2 separate regions of the Homo sapiens genome follow, and region 2 is linked to region 1. The links come from fine-mapping of genetic effects on gene expression. A gene starts in region 1. The other region holds a variant in brackets. All regions are shown on one strand. Distances are from middle to middle.

What was found.
Region 2: its variant is fine-mapped to the expression of RAD51B in whole blood (TOPMed, PIP above 0.99).

Annotation. Positions count from the first base shown.
Region 1 is chr14:67,816,612-67,821,996 of GRCh38, forward strand. RAD51B (RAD51 paralog B) reads left to right here and starts at 3,168. Exons shown (of 11, transcript NM_133510.4): 1 at 3,168-3,242. RefSeq lists enhancers at 191-360, 411-510, 3,001-3,295, 3,555-4,316.
Region 2 is chr14:67,972,786-67,978,170 of GRCh38, forward strand. All of the region lies in intron 7 of RAD51B (RAD51 paralog B), which reads left to right. Among named protein-coding and RNA genes, the nearest start is that of RAD51B, 160 kb to the left of the region's middle. The variant C/T (reference allele first, on the strand shown) is at 2,860.

The DNA of each region.
Region 1 (5,385 bases):
ACAGCGGTGGTGGGGGTGGTGACAAAGACTGAAAGCCCCACTCCTATTGGCTCAAGGCAGGGAAGATGAAAATTAAGTGCCATATTTGTTTGAGTCACGTGACGCCACCTCTCCGGGAGTAGGGAAAGCTAGAAAGCTCGGAAAGAGGAAATCAGCTACCTGGCTGCGGACCATCTCCCTCAATTGTGACAGCTCCGGCGCTCAATACTTTCAGTTCTGCATTCGGCCGAGCAGGTGGCAGGAAGAACTGTGACCCTGGATTTTTTTTTTTCTTCCACTCTCTTATCTCCTTAACATGTGAAGTCAACATTTATTGAACGCCAACCAGTGATGGTGTTTTGCCAGGCGCGGGGGATACCCGGAGCTAGGAGAACTGGGTTCTCCTCCATTATTATTCTATCTACTGGGCTCTTTTGTTCCGGAACTCTGCGGTCTGAATTTCCATATTCTTCTGCTTCACTCCATTCATTTATTTGCACATTTACCCTACAACTGTTAATTGAACGGTGTGCTAGGCTTTATTTTATTTTTTTAGAGACAGAGTCTCTCTGTCGCTGGAGTGCGGTGGTGTGATCTCGGCTCATGGCAGCCTCGAACTTCCTGGATCAAGTAATCCTTAAGCCTCAGCCTTCCTGTAGTAGCTGGGACTAGAGGCGCGCGCCACTACACCGGGCTTAGGCCCTATTCTCTAAGTTGAGTAAATGGAGGTCCTTCTTCTCAAGGGAGATGCAGGCCAAAAATTAGGAGACGGTGGGCTAAATTATAAGACAGAAGTATGCATAAGAGATCAGAGAGCAAAGAATGAGCAAAGGCTTTTTCGCAAACACAATAATCTGAAACCAAGTCTTTTGTTTTGAGACAGAGTCTCGCTCTGTCTCCCAGGCTGGAGTGCAATGGCGCGATCTCGGCTCGCTGCAACCTCCGTCTCCCGGGTTTAAGCGATTCTCCTGCCTCAGCCTCACTGTGTAGCTGGGATAAGCGATTCTTCTGCCTCAGCCTCACTGAGTAGCTGGGATTTACAGGCGCGCGCCACCACACCCGGCTAATTTTTGTATTTTTAATAGAGACAGGGGTTCACCATGTTGGCCAGGCTGGTCTCGAACTCCTGACCTCAGGCAATCCGCCCACCTCGGCCTCCCAAAGTTCTGGGATTACGGGCGTGAGCCACCGTTCCCAGCCTGAAACCAACTCTTGAAGTAACGGCTTACTAGGTTTGCTCACCACAGCTGCCTTACACCAAGCCTTTTGTTTGGTTTCCCTGGTGTGCTTTAATCACAGACTCTCAGCTTTCCTCACTATGTGTGTTTCAGGTTTAGTAATTTCATTCAGCATTTCCCAAACTATTTAATCACCAAAGGGTGGTGAAAAGAGCAAGTTAAAACAAACAAAACGTTTTCTTCCAAAAACTCTTCTGTGATTGGTGGATTGTCCTCGATTCCTGAGAAAAGTAACATGGCTTTCTGGCCCATTAAGGTTTTTTTTTTTTTTGAGGCAATGTCTGGCTCCTCTCACCTCAGCCTCCCAAGTAGCTGGGATCACAGGTGCCTGCCACCATGTCTGGCTAATTTTTGTATGTTTAGTAGAGGCGGGGTTTCGCCATGTTGGCCAGGCTGGTTTCGAAATCCTGAGCTCAAGTGATCTGCCTGCCTCAGCATTCCGAAGTGAAACCGCCTTTGCAAAATTATAACTGAGGAAATTATGACAGTGAAAGAAATCAGACCTAACCGACTCTATCTTGCTTCTAACCGTTAAGCTGTCCTTGTTCATTCCTGGGCGTAGGCTGAACTAACTTTGGGGAGGAATTCAGTTCATGGTTTGACTCTGAAACAAAATTGATAACAGCCCTTTCCGAAAAGACCCACTTCTTGCCTGGGGACCAGTCTGCCTTTGCAGGACTAACAAATTAGCTACAAGTTTAGAAATTACAGTTTAGAGGTCATGCAGCCTCTGGCTCCAAGAGTCTGAACCTCCCCAAATTGCTCCCGGGGGTGACATCACTATTGCAAGCCCTAAGATCAGTGCTTGAGATATTTTGTAGACCCTGCACTCCATGGATCAGCTGACACCACTCAGACCAGTAATTTGGCGCAACCAGTTTTGCCATCACACCCAGGAACAGAAGACATTAAGAAAACCTCACTTCGACCCCTTATGATTCCATCTCCAACCTGACCAATCAGCACTCCCCACTTCCTAAGCCCCTACCAGCCAAATTATTGGTAAAAACTCCGATCCGCAAATGCTCGGGACAACTGATTTAAGTAACAATAAAACTTCAGTCTTCCGCACAGCTGGCTCTGCGTGAATTACTCTTTCTGCATTGCAATTCCCCTGTCCTGATAAATCGGTTCTGTCTAGGCAGCTGGTAAGGTGAACCCATCGGGCAGTTTCAAAAGTGCTGGGATTACAGGCATGAGCCACCGCGCCCAGCCTATTTTTTGTATTTTTTTGTAGAGGCGGAGGGGTGGGGGAGGGTGTCTCACTATGTTGCCAAGGCTAGTCTCGAACTCCCAGGCTCAAGTGATCCTCCCGCCTCGGTCTCCCAAAGTGCTGAAATTACGGGCGTGAGCCACTGCGTCTGGCCCCTTTAAGCCATTGTGAAAAGTGATGATACACGAAAAAAAAGATTTCCAGGGCCGAGAGCGGTGGATCACGCCTGTAATCCCAGCGCTTTGGGAGGCCGAAGCGGGCGGATCACGAGGTCAGGAAATCGAGACCATCCTGGCTAACACGGTGAAACCCCGTCTCTACTAAAAATACAAAAAAATTAGCCGGGCGTGGTGGTGGGAGCCTGTAGTCCCAGCTACTAGGGAGGTTGAGGCAGGAGAATGGCGTGAACCCAGGAGGCGGAGCTTGCAGTGAGCCGAGATCGCGCCACTGCACTCCAGCCTGGGCGACAGAGCGAGACCCCGTCTCAAAAAAAAAAAAAAAGAAAGAAAAAAGAAAAATTTCCAAACAGGGTGTTCCCTTGTTTCACATTCTCTTTGGTGATGGTCCTGCAACAGATTTTGATAATCACTATATTGAGAAACTGCTTCAGATTCGATCTGTTAGGCTGATCATAGTATTAACTACAATTCCCAGCAAGCCGCGGAGCCAACCTGGGCCTCTGCCGGCCTCTGATTGGATACAGTAGCCAGAATGACGACTCAATCAGTGCTTCGGTTGTTGCTTTGCGGCGTTTTCCGCGGGGAAACTGTGTAAAGGGTGGGGAAACTTGAAAGTTGGATGCTGCAGACCCGGTACTGGAAAGTTTCATGTGGGGTGCCGTTGTGGGGAAGTGGGGTTCGCTCATTATTTCCTGCTCCTTCCCTAGGCTCGTGGGTTTCGATATTGGGGGAGCGGAGATTTTCTCTTGGGTGCTGGTCACGCCCCCTTAAGACTCGGGATCGTCACTAAGAACCCCGCTGTGAATTGGGGGAGCTTCGGGCCTTCTTTTGGTGGGGAATGCTTGGAAGCTGCTCATTGTTGGAAAAAGCTCTTTTTAGGGGATTCTGGGTGATGTTTCCGCCTGTTGCTGCCCATCTTCCTCCCCAGCCCCTTCCCGCTTCGGGCAGCCTGTCATTAGGGGAAGTTGAGGGACTCTCCCACTTCAGGTGGTGTTGGAGAGCGTGGAATCTGGAGTCCGGTCCCTGGATTCGAATGCGAGCTTCACACCAATTGTCAGCTGTTTAACTTTGCCCAAGTTTCTCAACTAGTTACCTCAGTATCCTTATCTGTAAAGTGAGGTAAAATATCCGAAGCCTTTGGAACAGTGTGGCACGTAATAAGGGCTCAATAAATATTAGCTAATATTGTTCCTAAACAGTTGTTGAACATCTAACATGAAGAATTTTCTTTTCTTGGTGGTAAGGAGGACAGGGTTCATTCTCCAGGGTTGACCGTCTCCCCTCATGTGCAATACACATACGTGCTTTCGCGCACACATACACCGCAGGAATTTACGTGCTCCGGTGGGGGCAAACAAACTTGCAAGCCATAATAGTATTTTGATAAGATTATCGAATAGATATGTGCGAAGTTGATGAGAACATTGGAGAGGAAAAGACTTGACTCTGGGGAAGGTTTTGTGGAGGGAAGTCAGGGAGACAGGATGCGTGACCTACCAATACACATACCATGTGGCTGGAGGGCAGATCATGTGAGAGTCATTAAATGATGATTGCTGACCTTAAGTACTATGTGCCACGCACTCCCCGAGTCCTTTAACCTCCACTACAGTCATATGAAGTAGTAAATTCATATGACTGTAAAACAAGGGTTTTAAGGAAATTAAGACACTGAGAGGTGAAGTAACTGCCAGGAAGGATAGGAACTGAACGTTGCAATGTGATGTATGAGTGAGAAGGAAGTGAGGGACCAATTTTTGATGTTTTTCTCTGCGACCCTAAGAAGTTTGGAATTTATCCTGTGGTCTACCAGTCCCATGGGAAGTGTTAAAGGATAATCGTGACTTTTTAGGAAGCTACTCAAGGCAGGATTGTGACACTGATCTGACTTTTGCAGGCGAATTTGGGGCTTCTTCCTGTCTGCTTCCATAGCACTTTTAAATAGCAATTGTAATGCTTACTGCATGGCTGTAGTTATTTGTGTGTACCTCTCTTTTCATCTCAACTATGAGTATTCAAAGGGGAGGGAATATGCTTAAATGATTCTTGTACCCCAGACCTCAGCAGGGTGTGTATTTAAATGCCTGTGGAAGGAGTAAATTAAGGAACAAATGAATGGAGTGGCCAGAAACAATATGCAATAGTCCAGGCAAGTGATGGGAGTGGCCCTATTAAGGCAGAAATGGCAGAATTGGTTGTTGTTAAAGTCCTTGTAGTTTAGAATTTATAGTTTTTTGTTTGTTTGTTTTTTGTTTTTGATAGGGTCTCAGTCTGTTCCCCAGGCTAGAGTGCAGTGGCATGACCACAGCTCACTGCAGGCTCGACCTCCTGGGCTCAGGTGATCCTCTCATCTCAGCCTCCTGGGTAGCTAGGACTACTACAGGTGTGCGGCACAATGCCCAGCTAATTTTTGTATTTTTTTGTGGAGACAGGTTCTCTCTATGTTGCCCAGGCTGGTCTCAAACTCCTGGGCTCAAGCAATTTGCCTGCCTTAGCCTCCCAAAGTGCTGGGATTGTAGGCGTGAGCTACCTTGTGTGGCCTATGGTTCTTTTCTTTCTCCTTCTTTTTTTTTTTAAATTGAATTTATCAGTCTAAATGGTGTCATTACTTGAAACTACCTGATCTGAAAAGACACTAGGCAATATTATAGCAGGTATCACTTGGTTTTCTACTGGGGGAAACAAGTCATTGCTAACAAATTCCCATGGAGAGAAATGAGGAGGATGTATTTTTGTTTGTGAGAGGTGTGTATGTATGTATATTGTGTGTGCGTGT
Region 2 (5,385 bases), 160 kb after region 1:
ATGAATTGGGAACCGTTTGAACAAAATACTGATTTGGAAAACTCTTTATCTCAAATTTTGCTTGAAACCCATGACATCTAATGGAAAGGGCATGGTGAGAGGCAACACTAAATTTCTAAGCTGAACTCTTTTCCTAAACATCCCTCAGTGATCATTCTCTTGTATGAGTAGATCCCAACAAGGGTAGGGATTGGTTAGTTTCAGGGCATCTTATCTAAACATTCGTCTAGGGGCAGGTCTATGCTGGTTAGACACATAGAAATCAAAATTATCAACACAGTGATGACAATGTAATTGGCCATATCTATCAGCAACTTATAATCAACCATATCTAAGGCTGCTGAAAGGTACACCCTGGTAAAAATTCTGGCTCTACCTTTGACTTTCATTACTGACCCTAAGGATTTTGGACTGAAGTCTGTAAGTGAGCTTGAATTCAACCTGGAATCTGCTTTGACCTTGTAGGTAAATAGTGTGCAAAGTTAGGAAATTAGAACAAAATAAAATTTACTTTACAGCTAGGATAAATTGTGATAAAATGAGAAATTGGCAGCAAGAAGTTTTAGTGAATAGGACCCTCAAAGGAAACTTAAACAATGTTGAAGTGATGTTTGCTGCCATCAGACAGCACACACACACAAAAAACTATGTCTAAACTGTTAAAGTGGATTTTATGTAAATTGTTCATGATAAACATTTGCATTATATATTCCTATTCCTTTGTACTTCCCATTTGATGAAGTTTTCAAACTGTGGTTTGCTGGAGGGGAAAAAGAAAACCCAAATCCAAACCACATAGGACAAATTGAATTACAAACCTGGTGTGGTCCCTTAACTCAATTACATCTAATTTGTGTTATTTTAGTCATCCTGGGTGGCAGCTGTTCTGAGTAAATGCCCACAAACATTTTCAATGTAAGAATTTGTCCTGATTACAGCTCTTTAAGATCAGTAGTAGCCTATTTATATTTTAAGTGGCAAAGTTTTAGATTAATTTGGTGTATCAGGACCATTTTAAAAATTCAAAATTTAGTTGTTTCACAAATAGACATTTAAAAAGCAAGCATCCAATGTTTATTTTAAATGTTAATTTTTGTAACTTCACCTCATTTTCTTATTTCTTATGTTTCTACTTATGTTTCTTCTAAACATAGCCACTTAATTACTTTATTCAGGCATTTATCAACTTGCATATACAAGGGAATATGGAATTTTAGATTCAGATAAATGCTTTGACATTCCAAGTCAAAATTTGAGATGATCTGGGAAGAAAAACATGAAATAATATGGGTTCAGGATTGTTCAGTTCAATATAATTAAAACGGAGGTTTGTGTTAGAACTAAGTTAAGATTGAATATTAAATACAAAAGAAATGAAGACCTTGAAACTCATGAAAGTCTTGTGGAAGGACCTTGACTAGTGTTCTAAGGTAGACAAATGGGACCAGGCTAAATTTTAGGGAATTACAATGAAGAGATACTATCCAGCAGAGACAGTAATGAAAGAAAACTCCTATTACTTCAAAAATGATAGATGGTACATGAATATGTTTAAAAGCCATTGTTTTTCTACTAAATTCAGTAACTTTCAGTTAGCAACTGAATATCTTTTATGGACTAGATATTGATCTATGTACTGAGACTTCAAAGATGAATAAACTAAAGGTTCCTACTTTGGAGGAACTTATACTGTAGTTAGGATGGGGAACATGTAAATAATTTATAGCAACATATGGTAGGTGATATGATAAAGGTTTGAATAAATTCAAAGCTTTTTCTTTTGTCATAAGGAGGGTATAGGCCTAAAGTTAGGGTATTAGATCAAAACAAGTGAAATTTTTGTTTAAACTTACTACAGTACATGAGACTTATACTTCACTAGATATTTAATCAGTTAATGGTCGACCCATAGACTTAGGAATATAAATTGTTTAAATTTGAGGTGTTTATCAGTTGTGTACACTTTTTCCCTACTCATTCTCTTTTTATGGAAAAAACAATTTGGTAATCAATTATGATATGTATTTTCTTGTATATCTCTTATAATTTTTAATTAGTTGTGAACTGTATCAACTTTAATAACATTTTAAAAGATGTTCATCATCCTATATTCCTCTTTTATATGTGATACTGACTACTAATCTACTATTTATTTTTGAAATTATTTTTGGTCTTCAGTGGTAGTGTGCTTTTTTTGGTTTCTCTCCCACTTTTGGAGAGTTGATATCTGCTTTGCTGGCTTCACATCTGTATTAGTTATCAATTGCCATAACAAATTACCCTAAAACTTAGCCGCTTTAAACAATGAACATTTATTACCTAATGGTTTCTGTGGGCTAGTAATATCGTATCTGTCTTATTCACATGTGAATGATGAACATTCAGACATCCGATAAATATTATTGAATGGTGCACAAATGAATGCTGTTATTCAAGTTGAGGTTCTTATCACTTAGCACCTAATGGGCTCCACCATCTTCTTTGCTGGCTTCCAATCCTTACCCCCATGCTGTTTGTAAAACCACCCTTTCAAAAGAAATTTATGCTGCTGCTTCCCTTATTAATAACCAGTTGTGACTCTCATTGGCCTAATCAAATTTCTGTTGGTCTCCTTGGCATTCAAAGCCTTCCATAAACCAGCCTTATCATATTTATTCAACCATAAACCTTAACAGATATACCTATTTTACTTAAACTGGTTGTTTATACTTTAGACCTGTTAAAAGACAATCCTTAACCAAATTAAATATAACTCAGTTTAATTGAGCAAATCTGGCGGCTTCTTGAACCCGAGTAGTCTGAGAGAGACTCCATTGCAGCCACGTGCTGGAAGATTTATGGACAGAAAAAGGAAAGTGA[C/T]GTACAGAAAACAAAATAGAGGTACAGAAACAGCTGGATTGGTTACAGCTCCGCATTTGCCTTATTTGAACGTAGTTTGAACAGTTGGCCCCCTTTGGCCAAAACTCAGTGATTGTCACAAGAGCAGATTACAGTCTGTTTACACATCCTTTTAGATTATAGTTCACACTGTGTAGAGAAACCTTTAGGCTGAATTTAAAATATGTAAGGAGGCAGCTTTAGGGTAAACTTGATTTAACAGACCAAACCTTATCCCCATCCCTAATATCATGTTCAGTTTTACTTTCTTACCTTTATTAATGCTTTATTCCCTCATCTGTAATGCTTATATTCCTTGCTTTTTCAAATGTTGTTGATTCTTGTTCTCCACTCAAATTCTTTATGTTTCTTGCACCTCTTTCATAAACCCAGTTTGGACTTTTCTGGCCCACTCCAGTTGTTTTTGTTTTCGCTTGATTTTTTTTTTTTTGGTTGTTGTTGTTTGTGTTTTGAGACAAGGTCTCACTCTGCTGTCCAGGCTGGAGTGCAGTGGCGTGATTATGGCTCACTGCAGCCTGGACCTCCTGGGCTCAAGCAATCTTCGTGCCTCAGCCTCCTGAGTAGCTGGGACCACAGATGCATGCTACCTTGCCAAGATAATTTTTAAAAATTTTCGTAGTGATGGGGTCTCCCTATGTTGCCCAGGCTGGTCTTGAGCTCCTGGGCTCAAGCGATCCTCTCATGTTGGCCTCCCAGCATGCTGGAATTACAGGTGTGAGCCACTCCACTTGGCTCAACTCTAGTTTTTTGTTTTTTGTTTTTTAATTTTATTTTATATATTTTTATTATTATTATACTTTAAGTTTTAGGATACATGTGCACAACGTGCAGGTTTGTTACATATGTATACATGTGCCATGTTGGTGTGCTGCACCCATTAACTCGTCGGATTAAAGACTTACATATTAGACCTAAAACCATAAAAACCCTAGAAGAAAACCTAGGCAATACAATTCAGGACATAGGCATGGGCAAGGACTTCATGTCTAAAACACCAAAAGCAATGGCAACAAAAGCCAAAATTGACAAATGGGATCTAATTAAACTAAAGAGCTTCTGCACAGCAAAAGAAACTACCATCAGAGTGAACAGGCATCGTACAGAATGGGAGAAAATTTTTGCAACCTACTCATCTGACAGAGGGCTAATATCCAGAATCTACAATGAACTCAAACAAATTTACAAGAAAAAAACAAACAACCTCATCAACAAGTGGGCGAAGGATATGAACAGACACTTCTCAAAAGAAGACATTTATGGAGCCAAAAAACACATGAAAAAATGCTCATCATCACTGGCCATCAGAGAAATGCAAATCAAAACCACAATGAGATACCATCTCACACCAGTTAGAATGGCAATCATTAAAAAGTCAGGAATCAACTCTAGTTTTTAATCTTTGAATTCTCGTTGCATTAACACTCAGTACCAAACAGTGCCTTTCTTTATTTTTAATTAGTTTAAGTGGGTGAATATGTCTTTCCAACTAGAATTCCAATTTTCTGACAGCAAAATCCTTTTACTTCTCGCATCTTTATTGTAGTGTGCTGTGAGTGTATCCTGGTTGATTGAAAAACTAGAAATGTTGATTCACCTGTATGTAAAAAATCCTTTTTGAGTGAATTTTAACTGCTAGAGACATTCATGAGGATGAGCTGGGACTGCAGGACAGTTTGGAACTACATTTTATTATTTTCCTGAAGAAACATTGCTGTATGAAGAGATTAACTTTAAAAAGTTCCCTCCGGCCAACTATCAGAATTGGCTTTTAGCCTTGAACTATCAAAGCAAAACTTTCAGTGTTGCCTAGAGCAGAACAGGTATTAAGTAGCAAGCAATTCAAGGTCTCTGATCCCTAGCCTGCTTCAGCTATGGGCCTGGCCAAGCCCTTTGGCAAAGATAAGTTGAATAAGGAATTTACTTTTATCTTCTCCCTCTTGGAAGTTTTATGGATTTGATTCACAAAGAAAGGGCAATAATTGAAATTTTGTGTTAGCTTCTTCTTGTTATTCACCAAGAAAAGTTAAAGTCAGGTAATGATATCAATCAAAATGTAAGTACACCTACTGCCTAAAAATAACATTGTGGTTAATTGTGTTCCATAATATTCTTGGCATACTTTGCACAAGCCCTGGAGAACAAAGCCTGAGAGCCCATGGGAAATAAAGCTCCAGTTCTTTCGGCCACTTTAAATTTAGTTCTGTGATCTTGATAAGATATCATTGTATTTACATTGTTAGTTTCTACCAGCATTCCCTTGTATCTTCTTTTATGGCTTTTTCTATTTCTGTGCCTTTTTGTTCCTCTTCCTTATTTTCCCCCTAAAGCCATAGGTAGAATGTTTGGTTTTAGAGTTTTATAAGAGGAGTATTTGACTTTTCCTTATAGCGATCTCAGATTTCATTAAGTTTGTGTTTTAGGATGATTTATAATATCAGTCTATGATTTGGGCTATTATTTGCACATTTTTGGCTTTCCTGTGGCTAA